Regions from separate parts of the Homo sapiens genome. Here regions 1, 2 and 4 are each linked to region 3. The links come from fine-mapping of genetic effects on gene expression. A gene starts in region 3. Each other region holds a variant in brackets. All regions are shown on one strand. Distances are between the middles of the regions. Region 1 overlaps SASH1 (SAM and SH3 domain containing 1). Region 2 has its middle 140 kb from the start of SASH1. Region 3 holds the start of SASH1 (SAM and SH3 domain containing 1). Region 4 overlaps SASH1 (SAM and SH3 domain containing 1).

Region 1 (8,108 bases), 38 kb after region 3:
TGGGCAACATGGTGAAACTCCCATCTCTACAAAAAATACAAAAAATTAGCTGGGCCTGGTGGCGTGACCTGTAGTCCCAGCTACTCGGGAGGCTGCCTTAGGAGGGAGGATCACTTGAGCCCAGGAATTCGAGGTTACAGTGAACGGTGGTTGCAGCACTGCATTCCAGCCTGGGTGACAGAATGAGATCCTGTTTTTAAAAACAAAAGATGAAACTCGGCCGGGCGCGGTGGCTCACGCCTGTAATCCCAGCACTTTGGGAGGCCGAGGCGGGCGGATCACGAGGTCAGGAGATCGAGACCATCCCGGCTAAAACGGTGAAACCCCGTCTCTACTAAAAATACAAAAAATTAGCCGGGCGTAGTGGCGGGCGCCTGTAGTCCCAGCTACTTGGGAGGCTGAGGCAGGAGAATGGCGTGAACCCGGGAGGCGGAGCTTGCAGTGAGCCGAGATCCCGCCACTGCACTCCAGCCTGGGCGACAGAGCGAGACTCCGTCTCAAAAAAAAAAAAAACAAAAAAAAAACAAAAAAAAAACAAAACAAACAAACAAACAAAAAAAAACACAAAAGATGAAACTCAAACCTGTGGAGGGAACCAGTGGCATTCCTCCTGGTCTCCCTGATGGTAGTAAAATGCTGAGGATTTTCTGGATAAGCTCCTTGTGTATTCAGTGCCCTTCTAGATGGGCTATCTTTATTTTAAAATCTTAGTTGCTTTTTTTCTGTCAGGATATGAGAAGATTGTGAGACTTTAATTAAGCCCATTGAACCCAGGAACTTTCCATTTATTCCTTTTGGTGTGGGAAATATCTTTGGATTCAGGAAGATCTTTGACTCTCAACATGTTAAAAATTATCAGCAATAAATGTAAATAATTAGAAATCAATAATTCCTGTACTCTGATTTAGGAGGCTTGGTTTCTTGTCTTTTGGGACAAGTCACTCAAAACCCTGTGGTCTTTGGTTACTCTTAATTCATCTTTGAAATAAAGTTATCAAATGAGATCATATTTAAGGCCCTTCCCTGTATTGAAATTCTAGATCTTTATTTTTATAATAGGTTGGAATTCTGTGCCACTCATGTGATATAACTTGGTCCCATCAAATAATAGGAGAAATTTTAACCTTCCTGTTGGAGGAGTGAGGACTTCTATTTCATGAGTGCTTATTGAATGCCAGATGATCTGTCAAGGGTTTACAAGTATTTTATTTAATCCTATTACAGCCTGTGGGGTAGCTTTGTAATTACCATTTTACAGATGAGGAAAATGAGGCCGTACACATTTAACTACCTTACTCTGGGTCAGTAAGTAGCAGAGAAAGAGAGAAGGGTTCAGATGCCAAACTTCCTGTTCCATTGACTGGAGTTCTCTGTCACCCACAATTTTTTTTTTTTTTTTTGACGGAGTTTTGCTCTTGTCACCCAGGCTGGAGTGCAGTGGCGCAATCTTGGCTCACTGCAACCTCAGCCTACCAGGTTCAAGAGATTCTCCTGCCTCAGCCTCCGGAGTAGCTGGGATTACAGGCATGCGCCACCATGCCTGGCTAATTTTTTTGTATTTTCAGTAAAGGCGGGGTTTCACCATGTTGGCCAGGCTAGTCTCAAACTCCCAACTTCAGGTGATCCACCCGCCTCAGCCTCCCAGAGTCCTGGGATTACAGGCATGAGCCACTGAGCCCGGCCACAATTTTTTTTTTTTTTTGAGACAGGGTCTCACTCTGTCGCCCAGGCTGGAGTGCAGTGGCACGATGTTGGCTCACTGCAGCCTCTGCCTCCCTGGCTTAATTGAACCTCCCACCTCAGCTTCCTGAGTAGCTGGGGCCGCAGGCGTGTGCCATCATGCCCCGCTAATTTTTATATATTTTTCTTGGTAGAACTGGGGTTTGACCACGATGCTCAGGTTGGTCTCAAACTCCTGGGCTCAAGTGATCCGCCTGCCTTAAAGTGCTGTGATTATCAGCGTGAGCCACCGTGCCTGGTTGATAATTCTTTCTCATGTAGGCCACCCTTATTCTGTGAAGCTTTTCTCTTCCTGTTGGGCTGTGGCCATACCTGTAAAGAGGAATAACATCCCAGTGGGTTTAGATCTTGTCTTCACTGTTCAGCCTCTTCCATGACAGAGGTGGGACTGGGTCTGCTGTCAAGGATCACAGAGGCAGACACCATGCTAATGGTTCACTTTATTGGTGTCAGCAGCATTAAGATTCACAGCTGGACAAAAATATAATGAAACAGAGCTGGCCAAGGGCTGGATGAGCTTCTAGGATTATATCCCCATTTGTTAGTTTGGTTTTTCTAGCTGGTGAGGGACAAGGCACTATCAATTCACAGGTGCCAACTGTATGTTCTGTTGAGAGGTTTTTGTGTGGGTGCAAAGTTAATGAAATCAGGGTCACAGTTTTCAAAATCTCTGTGGTTTGGTTTTCATTGAAGTGTATGACAGCGAGTTTCGTACTTTATTTAAAGCAAAGTGCATGCCCTCTATATTCCTGCTTAAATATCTATGGCTATTGAATTCATGAGGAATCACCAAACCTGGGTTTCTTCCTGTCTCTCCAGTCCCCTGTCCTGCCACACCTCTGCATTCTGACCTTTTAGTCACCCAGGGTAGCTTTACCTCTTGGAACATGTTAAGCTCTCTCTCTGGACTCAGAGGAATTACATTTGATATTCCCTCTGTATGGAACTTCTTCCTACCCCCTTCCCTCAGATCTTCGTTTGTTATTGTTTCTAATGATATATTTCATGTATCAATGTCTCATTAGACTGTATTACTCTTGTGAGGTCAGTAGGGACAAGAATCGTGACTAGAAGCTCACCATTATATATAAAAATGCTGGTTTAGCGGGCAGTCTGTCAATTCCTAGTTACCGAGTGAATTTTATGGCACTCTCAGGAAAGAGAGGGATCAACTTTACTGCCATCCATCCATCAATCCATCCATCCATCCATCCATCCATCTGTTCATTCATTTGATAAGTATTTATTACGTAACTGCTAAGTGTTGGGTGTTGCAATAATGTTAGATATTGAGGTTATAAAAATGAATAAGATCCATTCCCAGTTTTCATAAACTCTAAAGTTGCCTGGTAACAACAAACACGTAAACAAATAAGTCACCTTTTAAAAACTCCTTACAGTGGGAAATTTCAGATGTATACCAAGTGGGGAGCATATGTTAAAGAGCTGCCATGTTCCATCACCGCTGATCTTGTTCCATCTATATCTGCACTCACCACCCCTCCCAGGCCCAGGATTTTAAAGCAAGTCCTGGATATCGTGTGCAGCCATTTGTGAGATGCGGAACGTAGGTGCCACACAAAGAGTATTTTTCAGTTGTTACCTGTCAGTTCTTAAAAATGTGGAGTTTTGGCAATAGCACCAAGAAACAGTTGCTTCAACCTTAGCTGTATAAAAGCAGAGGGTTACCAGCGTCATGCCTGTTGTCAGTCAGTTTTGATTGAGTTGTCTGGACTCCTGCGTCTCACTTACCAGTTGCGCCGGGGAGCTGTGTGAGGAAATCAGCCAGAGTCAAGCTCAGTCTCATACCACAGACGGTCACACCGCGAGGCTCTCTAGTCAAGCTGTGGCAGATTATAATTTTTCTAAAACACAAAAACTCAAATATTGTACATCATTTAACCATAGTACTAGAAATTTCAGATTGTTCTGAGATCAATATTTTCATTTCTAAAATTCTGGTCATATCACATTCAGATCTTGTTGGTCAAATGCTTGAAAATGTTCACAGCCTCACGTTTGTGTGCCAAAAAGGCGGCCAGAGAAAACCCAGTGTGATTCATGCTCATCAAGATCTGTGAATGTGGTCTATAATTGTGACTTCATTCCCACCCAATTATCTGTGCTGCTTTTCAAATCTGTGATTCTGTTAAGCTCAGGGCAGATTAAAAATGGAAAATGAGTTCAGTCTAAAACTGCCATCTGCTAAATCCAAATGTCCATTTTGAGTCTGAATCTAGGCTTGTACTTTCTAAAAACCAATGATCAATGTTCCCATTCTTTTCTCCACATTTTCAAGTTCTTAGGGTTTTTGTGTAATACTCTTTTGAGCCACTGATAGCCAGCAGATTGGATTTTTCAGAGCCTTTCGTTCCAAAGAGATCTAATATTAAGCACACAGCTTAGTAAATCCCTTCAACAAGTTCTCATGACTTAACCGTATGACTGCATTAAAATAAACTAATGGCCACACTTTGCTCTTCTGTGCAGTAGAAATAAACATTCATGTTTTTTGATTTTATATTGGATACTTAATACCTAGCACAACACTCGGAATATAGTAGATGTTTAGTAAATATTATTTGAATTAATGAAATATCCTGTGAACTGTTGATGATTGAAGGGCATAAACACAGGCGAATGTTGACAGCTTTCCTCAGTTTCTTCATCATACGTGAAAATCACTGTGCTGTGCAGAGGTGCTAGCATATACTCCGCATGAGGGATGTGGAGTAGGCCTTCTTCGTCATCTCTTTTATTAGAGCTGCTCCTCTGCCTGGCCAGGAAACTGAGTTTGTTCATATTTAGACTAAACTTTTCAGATTTCTTCCCAGTAGGTAGTTGGGGATGACTAGTTCATGCATAAGATTTTGGTAATAACATTTTTGCTACCAGTCTCAAGCCTGCCGAATCCTAGGGTCAAGCAGGCTGCACTGGGCCTGTTGGAAGTAGAGGAGAGGGAAAGTGTTTCTGCCGCGACTTTAACTCTGTCCTACCACAGATGACATTTCCCCAAGGGAGCAGGGAGTGTAAGAAGAGAAAAATGCAGAGGACCTTGGGGAATCATTGCATGTAAGGGTGTGCTGAGGAGGAGGGGTGGATGGTGACAGGGAAACTCACAGGCAGTGGGGTTCTAAAATAGAGACAGTGTGGGCCCCCATGGCTGTTGCCTAGGAAGCGAACTCCATCAGTGCCTTTCTTGCTTTCTTTTTTTTTTTTTTTTTTTTTTTTTTGAGACAGAGTCTTGCTTTGCTGCCCAGGCTGGAGTGCAGTGGCGCAATAATCTTGGCTCACTGC[A/C]GCCTCTACCTCCTGGGCTCAAGTGATTCTCTCGCCTCAGCTTCCTGAGTAGCTGGGATTACAGGCATGCACCACCACGCCCAGCTAAGTTTTGTAATTTTTTTAGTAGAGATGAGGTTTCACCATTTTGGTTGGCCAGGCTGGTCTCAAACTCCTGACCTCAAGTGATTCACCCACCTCTGCCTCCCCAAAGTGCTGGAATTACAGGTGTGAGCCACTGTGCCCAGCCTCTTCTGTGCTCTTCTAATATGCTATGTGATATCCTTTAAACAAATGCAAGTCTCAAATGTTTAAATTTATCCAAAGACTCTGTGGGGGATTGTACTGCGTTCACCCTTTCTGGTATGGTTCTGGGTTAGCGACCTTTACAAAAGACACCTTGTGTGAGATTTGGGAGCTGGAAGTGAATCAGCAGCATATTTTTTTGACTCTGAAGGTTGGTGTAGGATGCCAGGCATTGTGGCAGCTTCCACATGGTGTCACTGATCTGCTGGCTTACCTTGCTGGCATGAGACAGCATCTGAACCCACAACAGCTCCAGAGCCCGCCAGATCTCCGCCTTCTGTGTCCTCGGCCATGTGTGCAGGTCCATTGTGAAGAGTGTGACGGTCTCGCTCTGTCACCCAGGCTGGAGTGCGATGGTGCCATCTTGGCTCACTGCAACCTCCGCCTCCTGGGTTCAAGTGATTCTCCAGCCTCAGCCTCCTGAGTAGCTGGGATTACAGGCACCCACCACCACGCCTGGCTAATTTTTGTATTTTTAGTAGAGACGGAGTTTCTCCATGTTGGTCAGGCTGGTCTCGAATTCCCGACCTCAGGTGATCCACCTGCCTTGGCCTTCCAAAGTGCTGGGATTACAGGCATGAGCCACCGTGCCTGGCCCCCCAATTTTTTTTCCTGCTATTTTTTTCCTTAGACATTTGGAGACCTAGAAGCAGGTGCTGAGAGAGCTCTGAGGAGGAGGGTTTGTCAATCCTGCCTTCTGGGAGGCCGTTTATTCTTCAGGAGGGGATCTGTGGTAACCGGGATCCACCTGTGCGCAATAGCATCACCATGACCGTATATGCCAAAGCCAGGATTTGACATGGGTGCTGGCAGGTTTTGGGTGTTTTTGGAGAGAGGGGATGGAAGGTATGAAATAAGCCTCACTCCAGCCACCTGCCCTATGGGTGTGCCCCTGGGGGCTTCACTTGCCATTTGCATGACCTAATACGTCCCTCTGGCATATGTCGTTACACGTTAAAACTTTTTCCTGAGACAAAGTATACTTCCAGCTCAACCCATCTGTAGAAACACTGGGAGTGATACCTCAGAAAAGTATTTGAGATTAGTTATTACAGTCAGTGAATGTCTGCAGAACGACGACGACGTGGCAGGAAGTGATGACAGAGCTGGTGAGAACAGTAACATTACAGGGATTCAATGAGGCCGAACAAGAAAACGAGAATTAAAGACATTTTTATGGTTGTAGCAATTTCACCTGAAAGGTTGCTAAAAGTGTTTATCACCTTAAAAATCTTTAAACAAGCTAATTAAGGGTGAAAACACCTTGGGAAGTCATTCAAAAAATCAGTTAGGTTTCATTGTACCATAGTGATTTCTTTTTTTAATGGATTTAGCTTAGAGGGGATGTATATATCTCCATCCATCCCTCTTCAAACAAGGAGCAATGTAAATATAACAGAATTTATGTTATATAAAAATATATGTACTTATTATTAAGGACGGAAAAGGTAAAGAAACAATAAAGGAGTCAGCAGTCTGTCTTTCTCTCAACTTTGGGGAGTTAGAGCAACACACATGAGTTTTCCCTTGGGGAAAACTTTATAGATACATAAAATAGGAGGATCACACATTCGTTTGCATACAATCTGCATGCAACAGATCACATTGTATCTCCTGATGTTTTCAGATGCTTTTTTTTCTTTTTATTTTTTTCCTCTCCTGAATCTGTCAACTTATTCTAAACTGGAAGTGACATCTGGGGAAAGAAGCGCAGAAATAACAAAAGTAACGATACAAATGCCTTTTGTTTTCCTAGTAGTTTTAGGTTTTCCATTTTCCAGAGACAGAAGTGAATTGGGATAAATCTCAGAAATACTGTGAAACCGATTGTTGAGGAAACAGTGCTCTGTGTCTTTTCTCCTTAATTGCAACAGCAGTCCACCCAATCTGAACTGCTCGGTACAATGCCCCTTATCTCTGTATTTTTATGTTGGTTGTATGAAAGACGGGTGTTTGGGACAAAGATGCTCTGTGGCTTTGGGGGAAGATTATACAAGTTTGTTGTCCGTTGAGCTGACACGGGTGATGACTCCACAGATTTAATTTAAATCTTCAGCAAGTGAAATGGATTGTCATACATATGGACAGATGCTGTGACCAGGTTCTATGAGAAGAAAAGGAAAGAGAACTTGAATCTGCATGTATCTCTTTTCCTGTTTTCAAAGACAGGGGTGGGAAAATTCTTATAAAAAGATCGCGTGACTCAAAATTTCACAATTTTCTCAAAAAATTATTTTGAGGAAATAACGTTTTCCCATGTTCCTAAACTTGAACTAATATTGCTTAAGTTTAATGCCAGAGAACCAAAGAGGGAAAATAAGAAAGAAGTGAAACAGATGAGGCAAGCAATAAACTCCAGACCAGAAACTTTTGAACACCTTAAAAGAAAAGGTTTAAAAAAGAATCCGTTTCAGTGTTTTAATCATGATATTTATTATAATAAATGTAGAGATGATTTTAAGTCTTATTATAGTTACAAGTTTATTTTGCAACATCAGTGCTTGACATTAGTATGGTGGGGTGTTGAGTCAGACGTAGATTTTGTGTTTCCGTAAAGATGGCAGCATGCGATCCTATGGAAACCTCATCTACATTATTTAAATTTCCTGCAGACTCATGTTGCAAGTATTTTTAGTAAAATTAAATATTTTTATGGAGTAGGTCTGTAGCTATCTCAAGGAATAAGCTGAATAAAAATAATGCAAACACTGTCAGTCCTGAAAGAGCATGGCTTTTTAAAAACTGCTTTATTGAGGTATGCTTGATAAGTGAAAAGCTGTGCATTT
Region 2 (8,108 bases), 140 kb before region 3:
ATAGCGAAAAGACATCCAAGGACTGCAGCTGGACTCATCCTTTCCATCTCCTCCTGCACACATCACCCCAGGTCTGCCCTCCCTGAGCCCTGGTGGGCTGGTCTACCCTGCTAGGAGACAGGAGGGCTGCCGGGAGGCTGGAAAACTAGGCAAGAAGTCTTGGAAGGCAATGACCAAGGCTTAGCAGGAAGAGAGATAAAGAAGGAGGGTTTAGGATTGATTACAAAATGTCTGGCACCAAGAGTGGAAGATTCTTGTGAAGAAAAGCTTATTATAGGAATTTCTGGGGAAAGAAAGAATATAAGGTGAGGAGCAGTGGCTCATGCCTATAATCCCAGCACTTTGGGAGGCCGAGGCAGGCAGATCACCTGAGTCAGGAGTTCCAGACCAGCCTGGCCAACGTGGCGAAATTCTGTCTCTACTAAAAATACAAGAACTAGGCAGGCATGGTGGCATGTGCCTGTAATCTCAGCTACTCAGGAGGCTGAGGCACAAGAATCGCTTGAACCCGGTAGGCAGAGGTTGCAGTGAGCAGAGATTGTGCCATTACACTCCAGCCTATGCAACAGAGCAAGGCTGTGTCAAAAAAAAAACAAAAACAAAAAACAGAAAAGAAAGAATATAGAAAAATTGAAATGACAGCAAGAAGTAACAAGACCAAATTAAGAAAAATTTAGAAATGGGAAATCTGGATACATTGTTATGAGAACTATATTGACTTGACTGTGATGGACTCTTTGTCCTTGAAACATTCCAAATAAAATCAGAGAAAGAGCTGGAAGTATGCTTCAGAAGAATCTTTCACTGATGTGTCTAAATGGCCTGATTCCATCTTTTCCATCTTTGCCTTCTAGTTTTGGTCACCAGGTATTTGGCATTATAATTCCCAGGCCAACACACTGCTGTCACCATTATGAGAATTCTGGGGTGGAGGGACAGTGATTTTCCCCTTCCTTACCTCGTGTCTTCATTCACTCTCTTCCTCTTCCTTCTTTTCCATCCTCCCGTCTTCTCTCCCTCCCTTCCTTTCTGTTTCTCCTTTATCACATTAAATGCAGCTGACTACAAATAAGGAAAGGAAAACTTGGGGAACGCTGTGGTGTGGGTTTCTTCCAATAATAACCTTGGCAGGTAATTTTTGCATATACAGACTGAGTCATTTTCTTATAACTGAGATCAGGGGCTGGATTTCTCCCAGGAGAAAAAACACTTATATTAACGTGTTTATGTTTTGGAATAATAATATTTGTCCATGTGAAAATATGTGTGAGTCCTTTCTGCCACACCATCTGGCGTATAACTATTCATAATCCAAACAGTAGCAGCTGCTGCAGAGCACGAGGATGAGTTTTCTTGAAGTAAAAATGGGCTAACTATTGGATGCCACACGTAGCTTTCACAGCATCACCGGTTACTCACCAGAAACCTACATAGCAGTCCCTTCCATTAATCCATTAGGTTCTTTATTAATATCACAAAAGCTCACTTTGCTATCTTCTTCCATTCCATCCAGTAGAGAAACTCTATCGTTTAACCTTACTCTCAACCTGTGGCCCTTGTACCTTGGGAACATGCATGTGTTTTACCCAAAACTGTTGGCAACTGAAGGTGTCAGTTTGGGTTTTGTTGACTGATGACAGCTGCCAGAAAAATTGCCGGGAATTTTTGCTGCAGTTCTCCACTGCGGCTTCCTACACTGCTGAACCACATTCATTATGTGTTTGTGGCTAATCAGACACATGGGGACACAGCAGCAGTTGATGAATCCCTCTCGGGCCGCTCGGCAAGGCTCTGATGTAATGGAAAGTGTAGGGTAACGCTTTCTACAGATCATTTGAATGCGGTTTGCAGAAACCCTTGAGGTTTAAGAAGGAAGTGGTTTGCGGAATAGGTGCTGGATGCTACTGTATAGAAACCACCACAATCGACAGTACAAAAGAGACCAATTTCACAGGGGAGAATTATCTGCAAGACTTTTTTCATTGCATAGTCATTCTGAGTCTCCCCCAAAAGTTGGAGGTTTTTGAAAGATAAAATTCTTGGCTGGGTGCAGTGGCTCACATCTGTAATCCCAGCACTTTGGGAGGCCAAGACAGGCAGATCTCCTGAGGTCAGGAGTTCAAGACCAGCCTGGCCAATGTAGTGAAACCCCATTTCTACTAAAAATACAAAAATTAGCCAGGCATGGTGGCAGGCACCTGTAATCCTAGCTACTCAGGAGGCTGAGGTAGGAGAATCGCTTGAACCCAGGAGGTGGAGGTTGCAGTGAGCCAAGAACATGCCATTGCACTCCAGACTGGGCAACGAGAGTGAAACTGCTTCTCAAAAACAAAAATACAAACAAAAAAAACTGTTTATGCTGATTCTACACATCACTATAGTAAGTATCCAGACCATTTAGTAAAAAAAAAAAGTCCTAACCGAATGCCCCAAAACTTGTGCCCCAAATGAAAGTATATAAAATTGCTTTAATTTTCAACACTTCAGTTGGTTGAATCATAATAATACCTTACATTTGCATGAGCTATCATGGTCCTCAGGGTGTTTTCACATATGTTTTTAGTAATTAAGACTTTTTTCCGAGAAGGCTGTCAGGTGACCCACATCAATGAGCATTCAGGAGATTGGGGTATTATCTCTGTCCAGCGTGCTTTGTCCTGTTCTCCTCACAATGGGTATCGCTAATTTCCAACTTGTATCAGTCATCTTCAAGCAGTCATTTGTCTTTTCAGATGTCTATTGGTCAGTCCTTTAAGTACCTGCTGCTTTTATCACCAGTTATAATGGGGCGATTTATCAATGTCATTCGCCTCGCTCGGCAACAAGAGAGCAACTATGAGATCTTATAGAAGTGGTCCGCATACCTGGCCTTTAACCACTCTCCTTCGACTTGAAATGGTTCTTATACCTCTGTCGTCCCAGAACTTGTCAAGAGGTCTCGGGTCAGCCTTAACTGGGCCTTGCGCTTGGTTGCCCATCAGCCTTTGCCTTCAGGGTGCATTAGATAATTTTTTCATAAACTTCTTTTTTCCAAAAGCAATATCTGCCAGCATTCCCAAGTCCCTTTTTGTATTTAGGGGTTGCATTATGTGTGTCTCTGGTTCTCACTTCTGTGTTTCTTATCATCATAATTGGCCTGACTCAGGCCAAGTAGGTGTTTGTCTCTATACCCCTATAATGTCAGTGCTAAGTAGTCCTAATAGGTCTTCCTAATAGAGGATGCCCTAAATCCTGCCCTTCCCAACCTTGCCTTTCCCTAGTCCCCAGAAGAACTTCACCTTGAAGACTCAGCT[C/T]TGACCACCACTCCCCAATCAATTCTGACCAACAGGTAGTCATCACAAAAGTGGAGACTAATCCAACTATCCTAACCCTGCTGTCTGGTGGGCCTGGACTGAACCCTGGGCACCCTGTCTGCTGACCTGCCCTGAGCCTGTGCCATACTTAGCAGATAAGCACACATGGAGCATTGCTCTCTGATTGTACTGATGCCCTCCTGCTCAAATCCAGCATCTCCACCCCTACCCACTGTGGGTGCAGCTGAGCGAGCTCTATCCTTTTGCATTCCATTGCCTCAGAGGTTCCTTCCCGGTTTGCCTAGGAATAGGCTGCCTTATGATTTTCATGGGCTTTAGGCACTTTTGCCTTCAAGAACCCCTTCCTCTGTAAAAATATATATATAGAAAGTTGCACTTTACAAATGTCAGCATAAAGATAAATAATTAAAAGATTTTCTTTGCCATTTATTTTTTTCCTGACTTAATCTATTAAAGAGAAAATGTATTAATACATTTTCATGGGCCCTTGCTGTATTGTCATTAACCTACTAAGCCTAGAAACATGCCAGCTGTCAGTGCTATGCCTAGAGCACCTGATGGAGAAGTCAGCCCCACCTAGAAACATACCTTCATAATGGATCTTGTTGCCTTAAATCAGGGTTTCTCAAAGCTCAGTCTTTTGCAAATCATATGAAACTTTATCCCATATTGCATTTCACTAGTACTAGTTTTCATCTAATATTTTTCTTCAAATTTACTTCCTTTGAAATTTTGATAGCTGTATATTTAAGAAATGTAATGTCACTAGCATAAAGCCAATATAACTTGCCATAAATAGAAAATTTACATTAATACAAATTAACAGGCCAGGTGCAGTGGCTCACGCCTGTAATCCCAGCACTTTAGGAGGCCAAGGCAGGTGGACCACCCGAAGTCAGGAGTTTGAGACCAACCTGGCCAACATGGTGAAACCCCATCTCTACTAAAAATACAAAAATTTGCCAGGGGTGATGGTAGGTGCCTGAAATACCAGCTACTCAGGAGGCTGAGACAGGAGAATCGCTTAAACCTGGGAGGTGGAGGTTGCAGTGAGCCAAGACCGTGCCACTCCACTCCAGCCTAAGCAACAGAGTGAGACTCCATCTCAAAGCACACACACACACACACACACACACACACACACACACAAATTAACATAAATACATTATGCATTAAAAAACATTCAGCTTGTTCATGTTCCACCCAGCTCCAGGCATTTTGCTGTCCTCAGCCTTGTCCTCTAGTGTTCCCTGTGGAGTTAATAATTGGGTCAATCCCTAGCACAAATGTGCCCCCTCTGTTCAAAGTTTTTTATTTGCTCACTGTCTACCCACTGACACCCGGCCCCTCTCCAGGCTACTGCTCCAAAATGGATGAGCCAACCAGACCTTCCCAACCAAATTAAGCATTGGCAAAGCATCCCATTACATTGGGTTTTCCTGGGAACAGCACTATCTGTCCCACCCTGATTTTCCATGTCCTCCAGAGCAGCACTGTCCCCTGGCCCCTCCCATGCTGATGGAAATGTCCAGTCTCTGCATTTGCCAGCGCAGTATACCCAATAGGAGCAGTAACTACTGAGCATTTGTAATGTGCCAGTGTGACTTAGGAACTAAATTCTTCCTTTTATTTCATTTTAAATCATTTAAATGTAAACTCTATAGACTCATGTGGCTAGTGGCTACCACACTGAACGGGGCAGCTCTGGATGCTGTGAGTTAGACTGATGACTGTCCTCTTAGTTTCTAGATCTCCATCCCGAACAGTTCTAAAATTATTTCCCTTTCCCTCAGTTCTATTATGCCACACAGCCAAGCTTATTAGTGAAATGATGATACTTAAGCTGTTATTAGTTGTTTACACTTTAGTGTGAAAGAAGGCCCTGGGAGGAGGTATGACAGAAGGACACACAAAGAGAATACGGGAGCCCCATGTGCTGCCTTGAGATGTTGGGATGGCGCAGACACAGACAGAATGAAGAGATGGATTCATTTGCCCCTGCTTTTCAGTTATGCAAGAATACCCAACATCTAAACTGTATTAATATTTTATTTCCTGAACATTCTCCTCTTTGTCCCTTTTAAAACATTTGTGAGTCAGAGTCAAGATTCAGGTTCAGTGTAAGCCGTCTGCTCAGTCATTTGTCATTTACCTGCTAAGCTCAGAAACTGTGCTTGAGCTGGCTTGAGTCCCCAGACTTTAGTATTCAAGTCTGTGAATCTGATGGTATTGAATTAAATTCATGACAAAACCTGGCGCTCTCTCATCAGTCCAGTGAGGCCTCAGAGACCATGACTGCATTTAAGCAGACCTTTAAGGATCACAGCAATGGCACACATTTGTGGAGCACACACGTGGATGACCACCCATCCATTCCTGCCCCACCTCTTCCTGCTTCCTCATCAGCTGAGCCCCCGTTTGGTGTGGTGCCCAGCCTCTTCTGGGAGACCATAAGCTCAGGACGGCAACATGATATGGAGCTCGCGAGATGGGTTGGTAAAACTGATTAAGCCAATCATGGAATTTCTCTTCTCTAGCCACTTAATGATTTTGGAAGAGGAACATGACCTAATGCTGGCCAGTGCGATGCTAAGGGAAGTCTACTAAAGGACTATTCGGAAAACATTCCTACTGATAAAAAGAGATGCATAGGACATGATCCTTCTCCCTCCATTGGCATTGTTGGGTTCACAATGAAGTCAGAAACTACAGCAGCCATTTGTCACCCTTGAAGTACAGGCACGACCTCTGGATGGTGGACAGGAAGAGGGGACAGGGTCCTTAACAGCATAGCAGAACTGTTATTGTGAAATAATAAACCTCCTAGGAGGTTAAGCCATTTTGGATTTTTCTTTGCTTAGCAGCTGACATCATTATTATTGATAAAAGTGTAATAAATCATGGCATTTCTGTTGCGTCTCACTTGACTTAAACTTTTGCTTCCCTGCCCCCAGAAAATGAACAGGGGATAGGTTTAGCTTTTTCTTGTTTTGTGAATTGGAGAAACTGTCTTTTCTGACACTGTTTGTTATTTTACTTCTGGAATGCCTTTCTATATAAATCAAATAGGCCAAACTTTGCCTATTTCTTCATCTTTGACATGGGAATAAAGGACCAAACAACTACTCTTTCAACTATATAGAAACTGACTGAATACGGTTACTAATAAGAATAAATCCTAAATGACAAATTCTAAATAGCAGTAATAAGATGTGGCCATTTGCTATAATACCTTTAATTACAAATATAAAATACCGTTTTATTTGCATCTTTAAAAATAAGGCCTTTTTCTGCTGGGCATCGATATTGAACACTTATTTAGTAGGCACAATTCTACTTCCATTGTGCAAAAGGCACAAATAGTAGCTTTCGCCCCAAAGCAAAAACCCTTCAGGGAATCTGTCTCCACTAATGCATGTATTGATACACATGCATATTTCCCATTAATACTAATAGAACTTAATGTGCCTTTATAAATCACCTGAATTTTGATTCAGTGTGAATCTGATGCCAGATGATTCAAGATGAAATGACAAAATATATTTGTCTGGCAGCTATTCCGTAATACACCTTCATCATAGCTGAATTCCTGTCCTGTGACTGAAATATTAATCAAAAGCTGTTTCTTCTTGCTCTCATCTCCCACATACTGCCTCTTGCCATCAGAAGAGATGAAGCAGACTCATCTATGTGACTGCGTACCTCTACTCAGGCAAAATTTAACGTTCTATTGAATAAAATAAAGAGGGAATGAACAGAGAAGAGAAATTCATAGGGGTTTTTCTTCTTGTGGGAAGAAGTATGTGGGGCTTGGTTAAATCAAGTGTACATCTGTTCTTGAGTCCTGGAAGAAATGCTGGGCCACACAGGCCAAGTGTGAGCAATTTACACATCTTTATTCCCCTCTTTGTCCTCACCCGTTGTCAGCTGTACCAAGCATCTTACCTCTCTATATCTCAAGCCTCCGGAATAACAGATTTTGTATCCAGCATCCATGTACTCTCTGGGAGAAATGCATTTTAGCACCTCTCAGAATGGTGAAGGGCTCCTCAACCCGTATGCCTCCCCTCTTTCAAGCTTGGCTGTTCCGGTTGCATCTAACTTCAGCTTCTTTTCCTCTCTGATCTTTCCCCTGTCTTACTAGGATTCTAGTCATAGTGATCACTCTTGGAGACTGTCTTTGGTTTTACTCTGTTATAGGCAAAAAAGAAAGAGTGTGCTCTAAGACAAATGAAACACATACACACAGTGTATTTTTTTTCCCCAATGTGTCTTCCAGAGATAGCAAAATTAAACATCAGACAGAAAGGAAAACATAGATTGTAAGCAAAAGCCCTACATAATTTTCGTTTATGGCTTGACCACATATTGAAATTATGAAACATCAGCACTGAAAAGGGCCTTTGGCAGTATATTACAGTAATGCTCCACCCAAGAGCTATGACTTTTCACAGTGGCCAAGCCAACTGTGTCACCAGGATGTTTCACACAACGTGGTAAAGACTGCTGATGCCCCTTTTACAGATAAAGGAACTGAGATTAATTGAAAATGCTGCAAAAACAGACCAGGCATGGTGGCTCACACCTGTAATTCCAGCACTTTGGGAGGCCAAGGTAGGCGGATTACCTGAGGTCAGGAGTTCAAGACCAGCCTGACTAACAACATGGGGAAACCCTGTCTCTACTAAAAAAATACAAAAACTAGCCGGACATGGTGGCACATGCCTATAATCCCAGCTACTTGGGAGGCTGAGGCAGGAGAATTGCTTGGACCCAGGAGGTGGAGGTTGCAGT
Region 3 (8,108 bases):
TTAGAAGAAAGGAGTGACAAGTGACATTAACTAAGAGAGAAAAGAGTCGTCAATCTTGGGAGTGGTAATCAGATCATGTTGAGTTAACACATGGAAATTGATAAGTAGAAAGTAGCTGGGACTACAGGCCACATGCTGCCATGCCCAGCTAATTTTTGTATTTCTAGTAGAGACGAGGTTTCACCATGTTGGCCAGGATGGTCTCAAACTGCTGACCTCAGATGATCCTTCTGCCTCGGCCTCCCAAAGTGCTGGGATTACAGGAATGAGTAACCATGCCTGGCCTCAAATTTCACATTCTATGTATAGGCATCAACATTTCTCCCAAAACATTATCTCATTTCCCTATCCATTGATTAAGAAGCACCAGGAAAAACAGCTTAAATATCTAGAATAGGTTGATTTCTATAAGTGCCAAAATGCTGGCTAAGGTTTAATTATATGTGTGTGTATATATATAGATATATAATTATAAATATAGATATCTATATAAATATCTATATAGATGTATTTTTTGAGATGGAGTCTCGCTCTGTCGTCCAGGCTGAGTGCAGTGGCTCACTGCAACCTCCACTTCCCAGGTTTAAGCGATTCTCCTGTCTCAGCCTCCCAAGTAGCTGGGACTACAGGTGTGTGCCACCATGCCTGGCTAAGTTTTATATTTTTAGTAGAGATGGGGTTTTGTCATGTTGGCCAGGCTGGTCTCGAACTCCTGGCCTCAAGTGATGTGCCTGCCTCAGTCTCCCAAAGTGCTGAGATTACAGGCATGAGCCACCATGCCCGGCCCGTTTAATTACACTGATGCGGGTATGTGTTGTCACTAAACTGTACGTGTCTTTAGATGACCCTGAAACATACTATAACCTGTGAAGAAGCAGGTGGCCATTAGTATGGCCTTGCCTCATCTTGGATGGGGAAACTAGCACCAGGTCAAATGCTTTGCCCCAGGTCATCTGATGAGTCAAGAAGAAAATGATTCTGGATTGGTGCTGGAGAGTCAGGCTTCATCCTAACCCCAGCCCCAACTGCCCGGCTTGCCTGGCTCCTTGCTGAGTTATTTGCTGGAAAGTGTTTATGTAGAGAACAGGCTGCCCCTTGGAAGCAGCACAGTCCTCTGCATCTTCTTAAATTTAAGAAAGTACCAGGCCAGGCACGGTGGCTCATGCCTGTAATCCCAGCACTTTGGGAGGCTGAGGCGGGTGGATCATGAGGTCAGGAGTTCGAGACCAGCCTGACCAATATGGTGAAACCCCGTCTCTACTAAAAATACAAAAATTAGCCAGGCGTGGTGGTGCATGCCTGTAATCCCAGCTACTCAGGAGGCTGATGCAGGAGAATCGCTTGAACCTGGGAGGCAGAGGTTGCAGTGAACCAAGATGGTGCCACTGCACTCCAGCCTGGGCGACAGGGTGACAGAGCAAGACTCTGTCTCAAAAAAAAAAAAAAAAGTATCACGTGGTGAATAAATTCAAATTCTTAAATATACCAATACAGTCAACTGTAAAGGCTATTTATCTTTTCCTATCATTTACTTATATTTATCTATTTATAGAAATGACAATTAAAAAAACCTCATCAGCCTTAACTGAATTTATTTTTATTCAAAGTATCACAGAGCACGAGGGAGCCTTGAAAACCCATCTGGCCTAACTCCGGCATCAGCCTAGGAAAGCACAAGACCTGGCTGTACTGACTCATAGTTCAGTGCTCTTTCTACTTCAACACAATGCCTCAATGCTATTAAGGAGAAATTTAATAATTCTTTTGGTTTCCTTTCACAAACATTATCGTCAGAGACTGTGCGCAGTGGCTCATGCCTATAATCCCAGCACTTGAGGAGACCAAGGAGGGAGGATCCCTTGAGTCCAGGAGTTTGAGACCACCTTGGGCAACAGCAAGAGATCATGTCTCTATAAAAAATTTAAAAAATTAGTCTGGTGCAGCGGTGTGCCTGTAGTCCCTGCTACTCAGGTGGTTGAGGCAGGAGGATTGCTTGAGCCCAGGAGTTCAAGGCCGCAGTGAGCTACGATTGCAGCACTGCACTGCCGGGGTGAGAGAGCAGGACCTTGTCTCTAAAAAAATTTTTCAGCATACTTTTTTTTTCTTTGGAGACAGAGAGTCTTCCTCTGTCACCCAGGCTGGAGTGCAGCAGCAGGACCTCACTGTAACCTTCGCCTCCTGGGTTCAAGCTATTCTCCTGCCTCAGCCTCCTGAGTAGCTGGGATTACAGGCATGTTCCAACACTCTTGCTATGTTTTGTTTTTTTTTTTTGTTTTTTTTTTTTTTGTATTTTTAGTAGAGACAGGGTTTTGCTGTGTTGACCAGGCTGTTCTCAAAATCCTGGCCTCAAGTGATTCGCCCGCCTCAGCCTCCCAAAGTGCTGGGATTACAGGCGCCAGCCCCGCACCCGCCAAAAACACACAAAAATTATCAGGGATTGTGTTTATAAATTTAGTTACTTTTGAAAATGTTTTTACATTTTGAACTTTCCTGTAAGGACTATTCACCCATTGCATTGATTGGTGCTCACAGCACTTAATACTTGAACAAGGGGAATTCAAGGACATGCTCTTATCCCCTTTCAAGTGGACTCAGAAGGAAAACAAAACAAAACAAAACAAAACAAACAAACAAACAAAAAAAACCCCACAATCAACAAGAAACAGGAGAGGCCTCAAAACAAGCAGGGCTCTCTCCCTGGGGCATCTCACTTTTTTTTTTCCTTTTAAACCACAAGGCCCTAACAGAGGAGCAAACTCCATGTGGTTTCTTAACTGTTTCAAAAGTGATCAATCACCAAATCGAATGTGACGTGCATTGTCACCTTCCAAGGAAAACTCTGAGTAGTCTTGAAAGATAGAATCACAAAAGGGAAAAATCACCTCTCCAGGGCTAGTTCCCTTATAAAATAAATCTGTCCTGGGGCTTCCCCTTGGAAAAACACACACAGGGCCCCAAGTGTGTGTAGGCTGACTGGCTACACAATCATTTGAATTTAGTTTCGAAAATAGCCCTTCCCTGTGTCCCTAATGTAAAGGAATAATTAAAACCCAAAGCGCATTTCCCTTAATTAGCCGAAAGCCCTAGCAATGCATGGCATTGTGGGCATTCAGGAGCCAAAATGCCCCCACTCATAAAAAATGATCCAAACAATGGCTCGTGCCCAAGCTTTCACACTTGTTTTGCAGAGAAGTCTTGGCTGGCAGAGGCAGGATTTGTAATTCCTTGGGTCGCTTGACTTCACGAGGGGCGAGGTATGCATTGTAGCGACACGGACTACTTGTGAAGCCTTTGGGCGGGAGTCGCTTAAAGATTAACTTTCTCGGGTTTCCGTTACCAAAAGCGTTTCCGTGAATAGCGTGATTGGAAACTTGTGCGGGCCGGAGACCGCGGCGCGGCTGCTCTTTCAACAGGCGATTTGTTCTCCTGTCCGAGGCTCATTTCCATGCAAAGAGCCTGACATCAGAGCACCTTTTGTTGCTAAACGCTTTCTTTAGCCTCGAGGGAGAGAGTCATGTGGAGCTGGAAGAGCTCATTTTGAAGAGAGGGGTCCCGGGGAGCTCCCTCCAAGATCTAGAGGCTCCGCGGCCACCCCTGCCGGGTCCTGCCAAGACTTGCTAGAAGGAACGAGTCGCGTGCCTTAGTTAGTTGGTTCCCGTCACAGGAAGAAACGCCTTTGCAGTGGGTTTAATTGCTTCTGGGCCGAGCGAATTCCCCGCCGTACAACTCAGTGGTGCGGACTTTGCCTCCTGCTACCCTGTTGCTGCGCCGAGCGGGGTGGGAAAGTTTCTGGAGTTGTCAGTCGCGCAGCCCGTGGCCACCTAGACCCGAGGTGCGGGCGCCTGCGAAGGGCCCCCGCGGGGTGGCCGGGGCCGCCGGGGCATGCAGCGCGGGGGCGCGGCTCGGTGACGCCGCGGGCGGGGACCCGGCATCCGGGCAGGCTGCGCGCGGGTGCGGGGCGAGGGCGCCGCGGGGACTGGGACGCACGGCCCGCGCGCGGGACACGGCCATGGAGGACGCGGGAGCAGCTGGCCCGGGGCCGGAGCCTGAGCCCGAGCCCGAGCCGGAGCCCGAGCCCGCGCCGGAGCCGGAACCGGAGCCCAAGCCGGGTGCTGGCACATCCGAGGCGTTCTCCCGACTCTGGACCGACGTGATGGGTATCCTGGTAAGTTACCTGGGGAGGGGGCGGCGCAGGAAGTACAGTTCGCAGCAGCCCCTCTGAAACCGGGGGCTCCCTTCTCGCCCACCCACTGGGCAACCCACTCCGCAGAGGCGTCCTTCTCTGGCTCTAGTTCTTAGGGGGCTAAATACACACAGTATAGGATTTCAAACCCTAATTAAAAAATAACCAGCCACAGGTCCCGTCAAAAGGTGTTTTTTAAACAATCGGGTATGATATTCAACAGTTTAATCTGGGACACCTGCTGACATGTTGGTGTGGAAAAGGCGAGAAAGAGGCCTTCAAAAAGTAGATGTAAATAAATATTTGGTTGGTGCTGGATTAGGGAAAAGGCTGATGTTACTGATGTTTATCTCTTCACCATTTGTTGTGTGACCACAAGAGGGAAAACAAACATTTCCTTACTCAGAACTGCCAAAATGTTTGCCTACTTTTTTTTGCAGTTTTTCAATTTGTGGAGTTACAGGATATTTGTTTTATATGTTTGGGGCTAAAACAATAGGACTTATTTTGCTAAATCTGTGCTGTCATGTATTTTGAAATGTCCAGTGACTAAAAGCGCCCCTGGATTTGGCATAGTCTCTGGGAAGCAGTTCTTCTGTATGGAGGGTGAAGTTTTAACCTGCTCAGGGTTGAATACCTTGGGGAAGTAATAGATTTGCTTTGGTGGAGCTGTAGTTAGGCAGGTAGACTGGAATCAGATGGGCGAGGTTTATTACAGTCAGACATCTTAATCCATACATAAAAGACAACTTTAGTTTAAAGACTTGGAATGGCCAGATGTGCAGATTATCAGAAAAGTCTCTAGATTTGCTTTGAGATCTTATATTTTTTGAGTGGGAGGAGATGGAGTGAAAGTTCTTCTTTGGGAATGATAAACCGTGTACAGTTTTTAGCACAGTGATTAAACTCTTGGGCTTCAAAGTAAGTTATACTAGGTCAAATGCCAGCTCTCCAATTGACTGTTTACATGATCTTGGCCAAGTCATTCAACCTCTCTGATCCTCAGTTTCATCACCTGAAAATTGAAGAAAAGAAGACTTGCTTCTTGGGGTTTCTGAGATTTAGCTGGGTTGATGTGTGTATCAAGTACTCAGCAGACTGTATAGCATATAGTAGAGGCTCAATAAGTGTAGCTGTCTTTCAGGTTTTATTTGTTTCCTGCAAAGTCTCCTGTCTCTTCCTTCTGGACATCCTAAAAGCCCAGTTACTCCATTTTCAGGTGACCATTGGTATTTATGATTCTTACTATACAGAGAACCAGCGAGCGTTGGTTAAAGATTTCTATCTGCTCTTGTCACTCTCCAGTATTGAAAAATGTATATAAATATGCATGCAATGTATATTTACATACTATATATAGCACATGTATATAATATACCTAAATCTAATATATATTTTAGATTTAAAAGGTTTTGTTTTTGCATTTTCTGAAGTATACAGATGAATATGATCCTTCACTGAAGTTCCAGAAAACCTAATGGACATTTTAAAGTTGTGATAAACTTTTTCTTTTCTTTTTTTTTTTTTTTTTTGAGACGAAGTCTTGCTCCGTCGCCCAGGCTGGGGTGCAGTGGCACGAGCTCAGCTCACTGCAACCTCCGCCTCCTGAGTTCAAGCAATTTTCCTGCCTCAGCCTCCTGAGTAGCTGGGATTACAGGCGCGCAACACCACACCCGGCTGATTTTTGTATTTTTAGTAGAGACGGGGTTTCACCATGTTAGCCAGGCTGGTCTCGAACTCCTGACCTTGTGATCTGCCCACCTCGGCCTCCCAAAGTGCTGGGATTACAGGCGTGAGCCACCGCGCCCGATAGACTGTTTTTAAGTTATCCTGTTATTTCTTGTCTAGATCCAGTTCTAAGTTTTCAGTCACTGAGGAAATTGGTTTGATAATATCCCATTGTATCCCTTACTCTAGGGCGTTGGGCTGGGGGCGGGGAGGATTGGGGGCCTGTTTAAATGAAACTTGGGCTGAGGGTTCTTTTGGGGAAGAGGGTTGGCCAGTGGCATTTTCTGCAGATTTGCTTTCCCTTCCCTGACAGATTCCAGCACTGTTGGGTCAGTTGTAGTGGAGTGTTCTTTGGCTGAGTTAAAAGATGGGGTGGGGCTTCAGAAGCTCAAACCTGCTATTGAAAGGGCAGATGCAGGAGCAAAGAAAATATGTACTTCAGCTAATCATTCAGGATCAGGCTGGGAAGAACGTAAAGCCTGTCCCAGACAGGTTGTGTTTGCTCATGTTTTCCTCTTGTTTATCTGGGGTAAACAGGCATGGAGATTGTTCCTTAGTAAAATTCAGAGGAAGACATGGCTTACTGCTCCTTTGTAGATGTCTTGCAGGGAGACACCAGGCTAAAAGGGAGGGAAAGCTGTCATCCAAGTGTTTATACAAACTGAGTCTTCGGGGAAATACATCAAGACACAAAATTAACAGTTGACTTTATTCTCACTGAAACAAGAGACACCATTTCCTTCCTTTTTTATTTAAAATATAAGATTTTGCAATCATCTATCAATCTAGACAGGTGAAGTGACTTGGCCAATGGCACATACCATGTTAGTGACAATGTTAGACTTGTCCCTGGTCGCTGGCCCCTCCAGTAGGGATCCTGATGTCATGACGCTCCATAGTTAACTCTCAGATGAATTCAGTAGAAATGTAGTTCAGTACATTTAGAAATCCTGTGTGTTTTAGGTAAAATGTGACTTACAAGATTCTTTTTCCGTACTGAACTTGAAGAGGACAGTAGAGGTAGTTGGGAAATTACACATCTGAACATTATCCTTAACAGATTTCAGACACAGTTCTACCTTACTTTTTCAGATTATTCTAATTGTGGAAATCAAACCACACAGCTTATCAATACTGTATGTGGAACTTTGAAATGACAAAACTCACAGCTTAGTAAGTGAAAACATTTTTAGGTGAATGAGCAATATTGAGCAGTTGTCCCCCAGGGGATTTTGTTGGTTATAACCCAGTGAAAGTATTGCCCCAGAGTCATGGATCTCAGTAAATACAGGATGGTTGTTTGAGTTCATTAGGACACATTTTGCATTTAGATTAATTCAGTCCATGCACAGTTAAGCACCAAATAGTTGCTTTCAGATAATTGTTAACAAAGTGCTCATTTAGAAAAGAAATAATAGTATAATTTACGGCATGAAAATGTTTGAGCAGTACTAGAATAAATAAATGCTAATAAGTGAATATATAAATGGATATAGAATTAAGAGAAAACAAGCTTGCAAAAAAAAAAAAAAATTAACTAGATTGTGAGTGCCTGGAGGGCAGGGTCAGTGTCTTACTCATTTTTCTATCTCCAGTGCTCCTGACTTAACTGGGTGCTGAGAACATGGCTTTGTTGAAAGAAAAAGGGGAAAAGTATGTATTTCTTAAATGCAGGAGTCACATCAAAGCATTGTTCTGTCAAGACACATGTGCCTGCTGTAATGTAATGGGTTACATTTATAAAGATGTGAATACATTCTGCTCTGGCTGAAACTGCATTTTGGGCAGTTTCATCGTGCAAATTAAAATCCCAGTGCTTCCACTGGAAACTAATGGTAAACTGCAACATGTTTATAAGCCCTGAGCTATTAAACCTTGGCGTTCTTGTGAAATGTGCCATTCTGTTCACTAACACCACGACATGTGGTAGGCCAGGGTTTTCAAAGCATGTCACTTCTCCCTGTGACATGTGTAGACTTCTATTGAGAAGTGCAAAACTGAGTTAGAATCCTGTGGAATTTTACCCTTTTTTCTTTACTCCATAGTTGGCAGACACGGCATTCCTTTTTTTAGGTAGGGGAGGGAAGTTGTTTTTAAGAGCGGGAATTGCTAAGGTTGTTGATACAGTTAGGTGTGGTAGATCCTTTTTTCAGAACTGATTTATCCATTTGGTAAATTGTGATGGTTCTTCAGCTTC
Region 4 (8,108 bases), 160 kb after region 3:
CATTGTATTGTATTGACTATTTCTTGACATGCGAAAATATTCAAAACATACAGCTTTAAAAAATGGGCTATGAAACAGTGTGGCTACGGTGCACACCAGGGGCCTGGGGTTTCTCTAAAGGAAAATCTTTTGAGGCAGCCGTGACCCAGAGAAGGTCCCCACTTACAGGCAAATGTGTTATTTCTACTTAGACTGTGCGTGTGCATTTGAGGGAGGATTTGGGGACACTGATAGTGACTAGAGGAGTTGGAGGAGGTAAAGATCAAAGATAACCCTTTCTTGTAAAAAAAAAAAAAAGAAACATACAGAAACATCAGGGTGTATTTTGTGTGTGCATGTGCATATGTGTGTGTATGGGGAAAAAGTGGGAAGGCATAAACCAAAATATTACCAAGTTTTCTGAGTATGGGATGATACGTCATTTCTCTTACTACTTTGTGCATTTTTGCATTCTCCAAATTTTTAATAATATATGTCATGTGTAGTCAGAAACAATAAATGCTACTAACATACAGATGTGGAAATGAATATGGTCATGTACATTGTCTGCATGACAGTTAGTGATGGGCTAGGGAATCTAGCAATGCCAATATATGTGTGAAGTCCTTGGATAAAGTATCTTTAGTCTAAGGTAGATGAGGAGCAAAGCCAGGAGAGCTTTCCAGAGGAGGCAATATGCAGACTGAAACTTGAAGGATGCATAGGAGTTAGGGGTGTGGATGCAATCAGCAGAGCTGTTTGCAGAAGATGAGCCATCAGGGCAGTGATGGGCATGGGGTGTTTGAGATGCTGCAAGGAAGCAGGGGGTGAGACCGGGTGCTCTGGTGCCCTTTCTACCACGTGGTATCTGAAGAGTGGAGCACAATGTACCAGAAACTGAATCTGACCGCACACAGTCACATATTCCACTATAAGGCCTTTGGACCTTGTTCCAAGGAGCTAATGAGGACCAATTCCTCACCATAGGAGTCAAATACTGAAGTCCCTTCTCAGCAAATTTGCACATCTACTGTGTTCAAGCCCGCCACCCAGAGAACAGGACCAGCAGTGGCCTTCCCTCACAAAGTCTATCTCCCAATCTGTCCCTCACCAGGGAGCTTCCTAGGGTGGCCTGGCTCAGTCTAGTCTTCCAAATATCCCCCAGTTTACTCTGACACATGGCCAGGGCTGAGAGCCACAGGGCTGGGGAGTCTCAACTTCTTCATTCCACAGTGATCGCACCAGTATTTATGGGTGGGCACTAGGAATGCAAGGAGCAGGAGATCAGACAAGGCTCCTGGCCCGGGGAGCCTCCTGTTTTCTGAAAGTCAAGCCATGGTACGTCCTCACAAAGGGCCCAACATCGAGTATCTTGATAAATACCTGAATGACTCCCTGAGAGGCGTGGCAGTGAGGTTAAAAAGGGGTGGACAAGGTCGGCTCTCTCTCCCATCCTCTTAGGACACTCTCCAAGTCCTGTGCTGTGAGGAGAGGCCGCTCAGGGGAAGTACTGGGGATGTATCCTTCCCGCCACCCTCCCCAAAGTATCTGGATAAATCAGTGCATGAACTTCATGTGTATTTCACATGGAACGAGGGCTTCCTTACCTGCCAAGCTCTAGACTTCACATTCAAGGTCTCATTTTATCCTCTAGAGAGCCCTAGGAGGCTTCTCACTGCCTATCTTAGAAATGAGAGAAGAAACATGCCCACAGCCACAGGCTCTTCCCATGTGGCACAGAGGGGATCTGAACCTGCATTGGCTCAGAGTCTTCTCTATATCTGAACAGCCTGTCCAGAACCAGCCTCAGATGCTGGCCATATGACAAGCTTTCACACGTAAAAAGGTTGTTGGTTTTTTCTGTTTTTGTTTTTTGAGATGGAGTCTTGCTCTGTCACCCAGGCTGGAGTGCAGTGGCACGATTTCGGCTCAGTGCAGCCACTGCCTCCCAGGTTCAAGCGATTCTTGTGTCTCAGCCTCCTGAGTAGCTGGGATTACAGATGTGCACTATGCCTGACTAATTTTTGTATTTTTAGTAGAGACCATGTTTCACCATGTTGGCCAGGCTGGTCTTGAACTCCTGGCCTCAAGTGATCTGCCTGCCTTGGCCTCCCAAAGTGCTGGGATTACAGGCATGAGCCACTGTGCCTGGCTGGTTGTTGGGTTTTTTTGTTGTTGTTTTTTTTTTTCTTTTTTCTTTTTGGAGATAGAGTGTCGCTCTGTCACCCAGGCGTGCAGTGGCATGATCTCAGCTCACTGCAACCTCTGCCTCCCAGGTTCAAGCAATTCTCCTGCTTCAGCCCCCTGGGTAGCTGGGATTACAGGCATGTGCCACCACACATGGCTAATTTCTGTATTTTTAGTAGAGACGGGGTTTCACCATGTTGTTCAGGCTGGTCTCGAACTCCTGACCTCGTGATCCGCCCACCTTGGCTTCCCAAAGTGCTGGGATTACAGGTGTGAGCCACCGCGCCCAGCTAATTTCTGTATTTTTAGTAGAGACGGGGTTTCACTGTGTTAGCCAGGATGGTCTCGATCTCCTGAGCTCGTGATCTGCCCACCTCGGCCTCCCAAAGTGCTGGGATTACAGGCGTGAGCCACCACGCCCGGCCTGGTTGTTGGGTTTTTAAGTGGTCTTTGCTATTTACACAGCACCTAAAAGAACAGTTTGTGAAAATTAGGTGTTATTTGAACTCCAGTGAGTTATGAATAGAAGACTGCAGAGTTAATAATAAGGCTGGGCTTGGTGGCTCACGCCTGTAGTCCCAGCACTTTGGGAGGCCAAGGCAGGCAGATCATCTGAGGTTAGGAGTTTTGAGACTAGCCTGGCCAACATGGTGAAACCCCATCTCTACTAAAAATACAAAAATTAGCTGGGCATACTGGCGGGTGCCTGTAATCCCAGCTACTTGGGAGACTGAGGCAGGAGGATTGCTTGAACCCGGGAGGTGGAGGTTGCAGTGAGCTGAGACCAAGCCATTGTACTCCAGCCTGGGCAACAGAGCAAAACTCCATCTCAAATAATAATATTAATAGTAATAGTAAAAATATTAAGTCCTTATTGAACTCCAGTTCAGTAAGGATTTCAGGTACGCAGTATTTAATACAACCACAACGTAAGAAAAGTGCTACTATACCACATTTATGTGCAGGAATATTAAGACCCATAAAAGTAAAGTGATTTGCTAGAGAACTTGGTAATTAAACCCAGGTTTTTCTAACCCCTGAGACCTTGGGCTAATCCTCTTCCCTTTACCCCAGTCTCACTGGGGCACTCTCATTTTCTTCGTTTTTATCCTGTAACGAAGGAATTTGGTGGAAAATGTCTACACTCAGTTTTAAGGAACTGTGAGCATAACTTTGCAGCATAGTTGTCAGTCTTGGATGAAGAAAGGTCTTGTTGAGGTAGGGTAGTGGCACAGGAGCAAAACCATACAGTCTCAGATTCTGCCCCTGCCATTGCTGTGAAATGGGGTCTGTATGCAAATGTTTAGCACAGTGCCTGGGAATGCTAAGCTTTGGACAAATACAAGTGTTGGAAGTACAACATCGCAAAAGCACCTGGTCCGTCAGATGGTGGCAGGGGAAGGGGAGTTTGTGGGAGAATCAGTTTGTGAAATGGGGAATTGGGCAGTGTAGGGAAGGTGTGGTGAACCCTTGCAGGAGAAAGAAGAGGAAATTCAATAAAGGTTGGGAGGAGATACTTCTGAGCAGAAGACAGAGTGGGAGAAGGGAGTTTAATTCTTGGCAAGGAGTGAGAGACGCCAGCCCGCCCAGGGAAGAAGAGCAGGACAAGAGCCGAGGAAAAGGGGATGGAGCTCTGGTGATCTGATGCAGAACCCGCAATGTGTGCGTGGTAAAACATGACCCTCCACTTGGGAGCTTCGTATTCCAATTCCCTTTTGTTGTTGTTGTTGTTGTTGTTGTTGTTTGAGATGGAGTCTCGCTCTGTCGCCCAAGCTGGAGTGCAGTCAGGCGATCTTGGCTCACTGCAGCCTCTGCCTCCCGGACTCAATTTATCCTCCTATCCCAGCCTCCTGAGTAGCTGGGATTACCGGTGTATGCCACCACGCCTGACTAAGTTTTGTAGTTTTAGTAGAGACGGGTTTTCACCATGTTTCCCAGGCTGGTCTCGAACTCCTGGCCTCAAGTGATCTGCCCGCCTCCGTTGGAATTACAGGCGTGAGCCACTGTGCCTGGCCGTTTTTAGTTTAGGTAACCTCTGAATCCTGTCCAACTCTAAACTTCTGCCATTTTAAGGAGGGACAGTGGTTCCTACGCATCCCTGAGTCCTGTGTAGCTAGGTATTTTATGTCGTGTGATGTCCTATAAAGAGCATTATACATGAAGACTCACCCAACAGGAGGGACATCTAGAAACAAGCAACTCACATTGTGCTGTGAGAATAAATGACTTACCCAAGTGAATGAACTTAGCCCTGAAAAGACAAACGTGACTTGCAGCCCACGTCATGGAGACTTTGTGTGGGTTTTTAGTCCTGTGTTGTTTAGATGATGTTCTTTTTAAGTAACAGCATGTGCCTAGTGGCTCCCCTGAG[G/A]TCCTTGAGAAAATTAAATAATCATCTTGTGACACGGTCCTCATGCTCACGTTTCTAGAATGCAGGAGAACTCGGATGCTCTGAAATGGGCATTAAAACAATTTGTTAAGAGAGCTTTAGAAGCACCAATGAAGGGGAAATATCCTACATTTACCCTGGTTGTTAAAATTTTAAAAAGGAATGGGGAGAGAGAGAGAAAGTGACAACTCTAGGAGAAAACCACAATCATAAGTTTTAATTCAGTAATTTCAAAAATAGCCATTGGAAGGTGTCTATTTTCAATTGAGACTGCTCCCTTAAGGGGGTGTTCAGAAGAATGTCTGAAAAAGAGATCTTTTTTTAAGTTCAGTCACTTTTAAGGGTTAGTCCTTGTCCTCCTTGTCCTGGATTTGCTCAGATTCTCGCGTTCTTTTTTCTGTCTCTGGAATTCCATAGACAGTAATTAAGGAACTGGAGGCCAGCAGGAGGTCAGGGAGCCTTCCTCAGTGAAAACAGGGATTGTTGGCCATGCACAACACTCCCTTTTTTCCTTGTGGTGAATAGGAGATTTGCTTAGAGCTGATGACTTATGCCTTTCTTGCGAGTTATGCAGTTAGCAAGCGACTGGGGAATCAGTCAGCAAGCAGAAAGAAGCTAATTGAATCCAGTGTCTTCCCCTTTCTCCTTCGGATACTGAGCTGTGACGGTGGAGCCTGCCTGATCATGTAACTCCAGAGAGACATGTTCCAGGAGTGCCTAATCTTAATTTTGAGATTGCGGAGTTTGATGCTACAAGAGTGAAGACGCTCTCCGAGTGGGGAGGGGGGTGGGAGGTACAGGACGTCTTCAGAATTACCCCTTAGGCTTGCTAAATGCCGAAGCCGGTAAGTCACTGAATGCGTTCAATGGGAAAGAAAGAATGTGTTTTCTGTTGCTTCAAGTAAAAGTTTTTGCTGCTCCTGCCTATGATGTTTCTCTCTCTTTTCTTCTTAAATTCCTCTAGATTTGTCCTTCTTCGCCTGTTTACTTCCCTACCTGGTAACCCTGAGCATTTTTGCCTGGCATTTTCACCAGTGAAAATGCGTAACTTTTAGAGAATAGTGAGTATTGTTTTGAGAATTTGAGACAATGAGCATATATGGCTCAGCTGTGAATTGTGGAGGCTTTTCCTGGGGAGGACTTGAATTCAGACAGTGTTGCACATTGCTTTTCATAAGCTTATATCTGATTGGCTTCCTTCTCTTAAGTTTAAGATTAACGCTGTGACACAGCCGACCTAGAAAGCTGAAGTATGTATGTCTAATCATGCGCTAGGTTAGAGAGACCAGTGTGTGAATTTCACAGGCAAGTACATTTCCAGTTTCAAATTGCTTTTCAGAAATGTTTAAATATCTCTCGGTGTTACGTGGCGCTGGGGGAGATGAGTGGGCTTAGTCTGGGTGTTAATTGTGACAGCGTGTCGTGTGTTTCGAGCTAGGGAAACAAGCTGAGTGAAAGTGCTTCTGCAGAGGGCACAGTTGTAATCCTGTGATCAGCGTGGTGGTCTCAAGCGGTCCTCCAAAGGGTCTAGTTGCTCCTTGCAAATTGGTTTTAACCTTTATTACAGCATATTGCCATTGTGCTTGCACAACTGTGCCATATGGCTTTTGGAAAGGATTTGTTCTGCACACTGCAGTCCCAAGAACTGTTTGTTACAGGGTCCGGTGAAGTATCTGTTACCGACCAGCAGTGACAGGTTTACTTGGAGCAGGGAGAGGATGCATTTAGTGAGCTCCGGCACACAAATGTTTGTACTCACAGATGCTATTCATTTTGTTCCTTTTTTCTGATCATCCAGCGTGTAGCTGTGTTATAAAAAGTTCTCCACGCTGGCTCCATGTCTTTCCTATTAGAACATTGCAGATGTGTCAAGGATGCACTTGTTCCAAAAGAAGCTGGGAAGGAAGGAGGCTCCACCCTCCTCCGGGTGCCAGACGGGCCCCATAGGTTCCTCATTCAGTGGCCTGGCCGGCAAATGGTGTGCTATCTCTTTAAAGCAGCTATAGTTTTGTGTCTTGGCTTGGTCAATTTGTTATGGTTTAAAACTGTGGAGCCAGCTGTCTGCAATCTGATGTAATGTTGCTATGGAAACCAGAAATGAAACACTTAAGCATTCACCACAGAATTACTACATATAGCATTAGCCAAAGTAATTAAAAGTTGAGCCATATGGGCTTTCTGCTGGAAAAAAATCTGCAGAGGAGAGGCTGGAAATCAAATGTTTCTGTTTACAATATTGGAAATCCACTTTTCCACAATTTTTGGTGGGATAAGTTGCCTTTTTCTCTTGAAGGTTTTCTGGTGAGGAGCTGTCATACAGATGATTGAGTTCACCTTCTCACTGAGAAGATGATCTGTTTAACTCTGACCCAGGGTGGGACAAGGGAGGGGAGGCCACACTATCTCATGTTTGAATGTGTGTGAATATATACTTTTATTTTTTAACTTTAGTTTAAAACCTGTTCTATAACAGTGCTGAACCTATTTCTTAGAATCAGTCATTTATTTTATATACAATGCAGATTTCCTCTATCTTCTACGAAGTTTTTCACATAGGAAGATTTCTTTTAAAATATACATAGTATTTGAATTTAAAAATTATATATTTTTTATGTTTATAAATATAAAAATTCTCAAGCCCCCATCCCTGGTGGTGTATTTCCTGAATAAAAAGACATGCTGGCCAGCCATGGTGGTTCATGCCTGTAATCCCAGCACTTTGAGAGGCTGAGGCGGGCAGATTACCTGAGAGTCAGGAGTTCAAGACCAGCCTGGCCAACATGGCGAAATGCCATCTCTACAAAAATACAAAAATTAGCTGGGTATGGTGGTGTGTGCCTGTAATCCCAGCTACTCGGGAGGCTGAGGCTGGAGAATCGCTTGAACTCAGGACGCAGAGGTTGCAGTGAGCTGAGATCGCACCACTGCACCCCAGCCTGGGAGACAGAGCGAGACTCCATCTCAAAAAAAAAAAAAAAAAAGAAAGACATGCTGTGTTATTTTCAGCATTTGGGAAGTGGAATATACTTAAAAAGAGAAATATGACATGAGGAATTCAAGATTTACTCTCCAGTTTAGAAGAAATGCAAGCCTTTTACAGCGTTTTTGTGTTAAAACAGCTGGAGAGAATTTTTTAAAGGCAAATATTTCACAACGCTTTTTTCCTCTGGACTCAGTAGGAAGTGAGAAGTCAACACCTCTCCATCAATATCATGGATGCAGCAATACATTCTTGGGATAGGTTGTTGAACTCAAGTAACTTCTAGGCTGACTTCTAGGTTAATTTTCTATTACACACACACACACACACACACACACACACACACACACACACACACACACCTTGGATGACCTGGATTTTATATTGCATTTTTCTTCGTATAAATTGTGCCGCATCTATCTTGTCTAGCGTCCAAAAAATGATCATGGAAAAGAAGGACTTGGTTGCCATGGTTTGTGATTTGTCAGTGACAAACACCTCCAAATCTTGATTTTTCTAGAAAAATAAAAATAGCATTAATTCAAAGGTACAAAGAAGTATAATTCAAAGGTA

What was found. PIP is the estimated chance that this variant, and not a neighbour inherited with it, causes the effect.
Region 1: its variant is fine-mapped to the expression of SASH1 in whole blood (TOPMed, PIP above 0.99). The same link has a PIP of 0.9 or more in blood mononuclear cells and monocytes.
Region 2: its variant is fine-mapped to the expression of SASH1 in whole blood (INTERVAL, PIP 0.92).
Region 4: its variant is fine-mapped to the expression of SASH1 in breast (GTEx, PIP 0.96). The same link has a PIP of 0.9 or more in subcutaneous fat.

The regions. Positions count from the first base shown.
Region 1 is chr6:148,376,671-148,384,778 of GRCh38, forward strand. The region is part of intron 1 of SASH1 (SAM and SH3 domain containing 1); the gene reads left to right. Among named protein-coding and RNA genes, the nearest start is that of SASH1, 38 kb to the left of the region's middle. The variant A/C (reference allele first, on the strand shown) is at 5,038.
Region 2 is chr6:148,202,369-148,210,476 of GRCh38, forward strand. It overlaps a transcript of SASH1 not described here. Among named protein-coding and RNA genes, the nearest start is that of SASH1, 140 kb to the right of the region's middle. The variant C/T (reference allele first, on the strand shown) is at 3,294.
Region 3 is chr6:148,339,059-148,347,166 of GRCh38, forward strand. It overlaps SASH1 (SAM and SH3 domain containing 1), which reads left to right and starts at 3,780. Exons shown (of 20, transcript NM_015278.5): 1 at 3,780-4,165. The coding sequence starts at 4,010. RefSeq lists enhancers at 2,427-3,006, 7,855-8,108.
Region 4 is chr6:148,503,478-148,511,585 of GRCh38, forward strand. All of the region lies in intron 8 of SASH1 (SAM and SH3 domain containing 1), which reads left to right. Among named protein-coding and RNA genes, the nearest start is that of SASH1, 160 kb to the left of the region's middle. The variant G/A (reference allele first, on the strand shown) is at 4,538.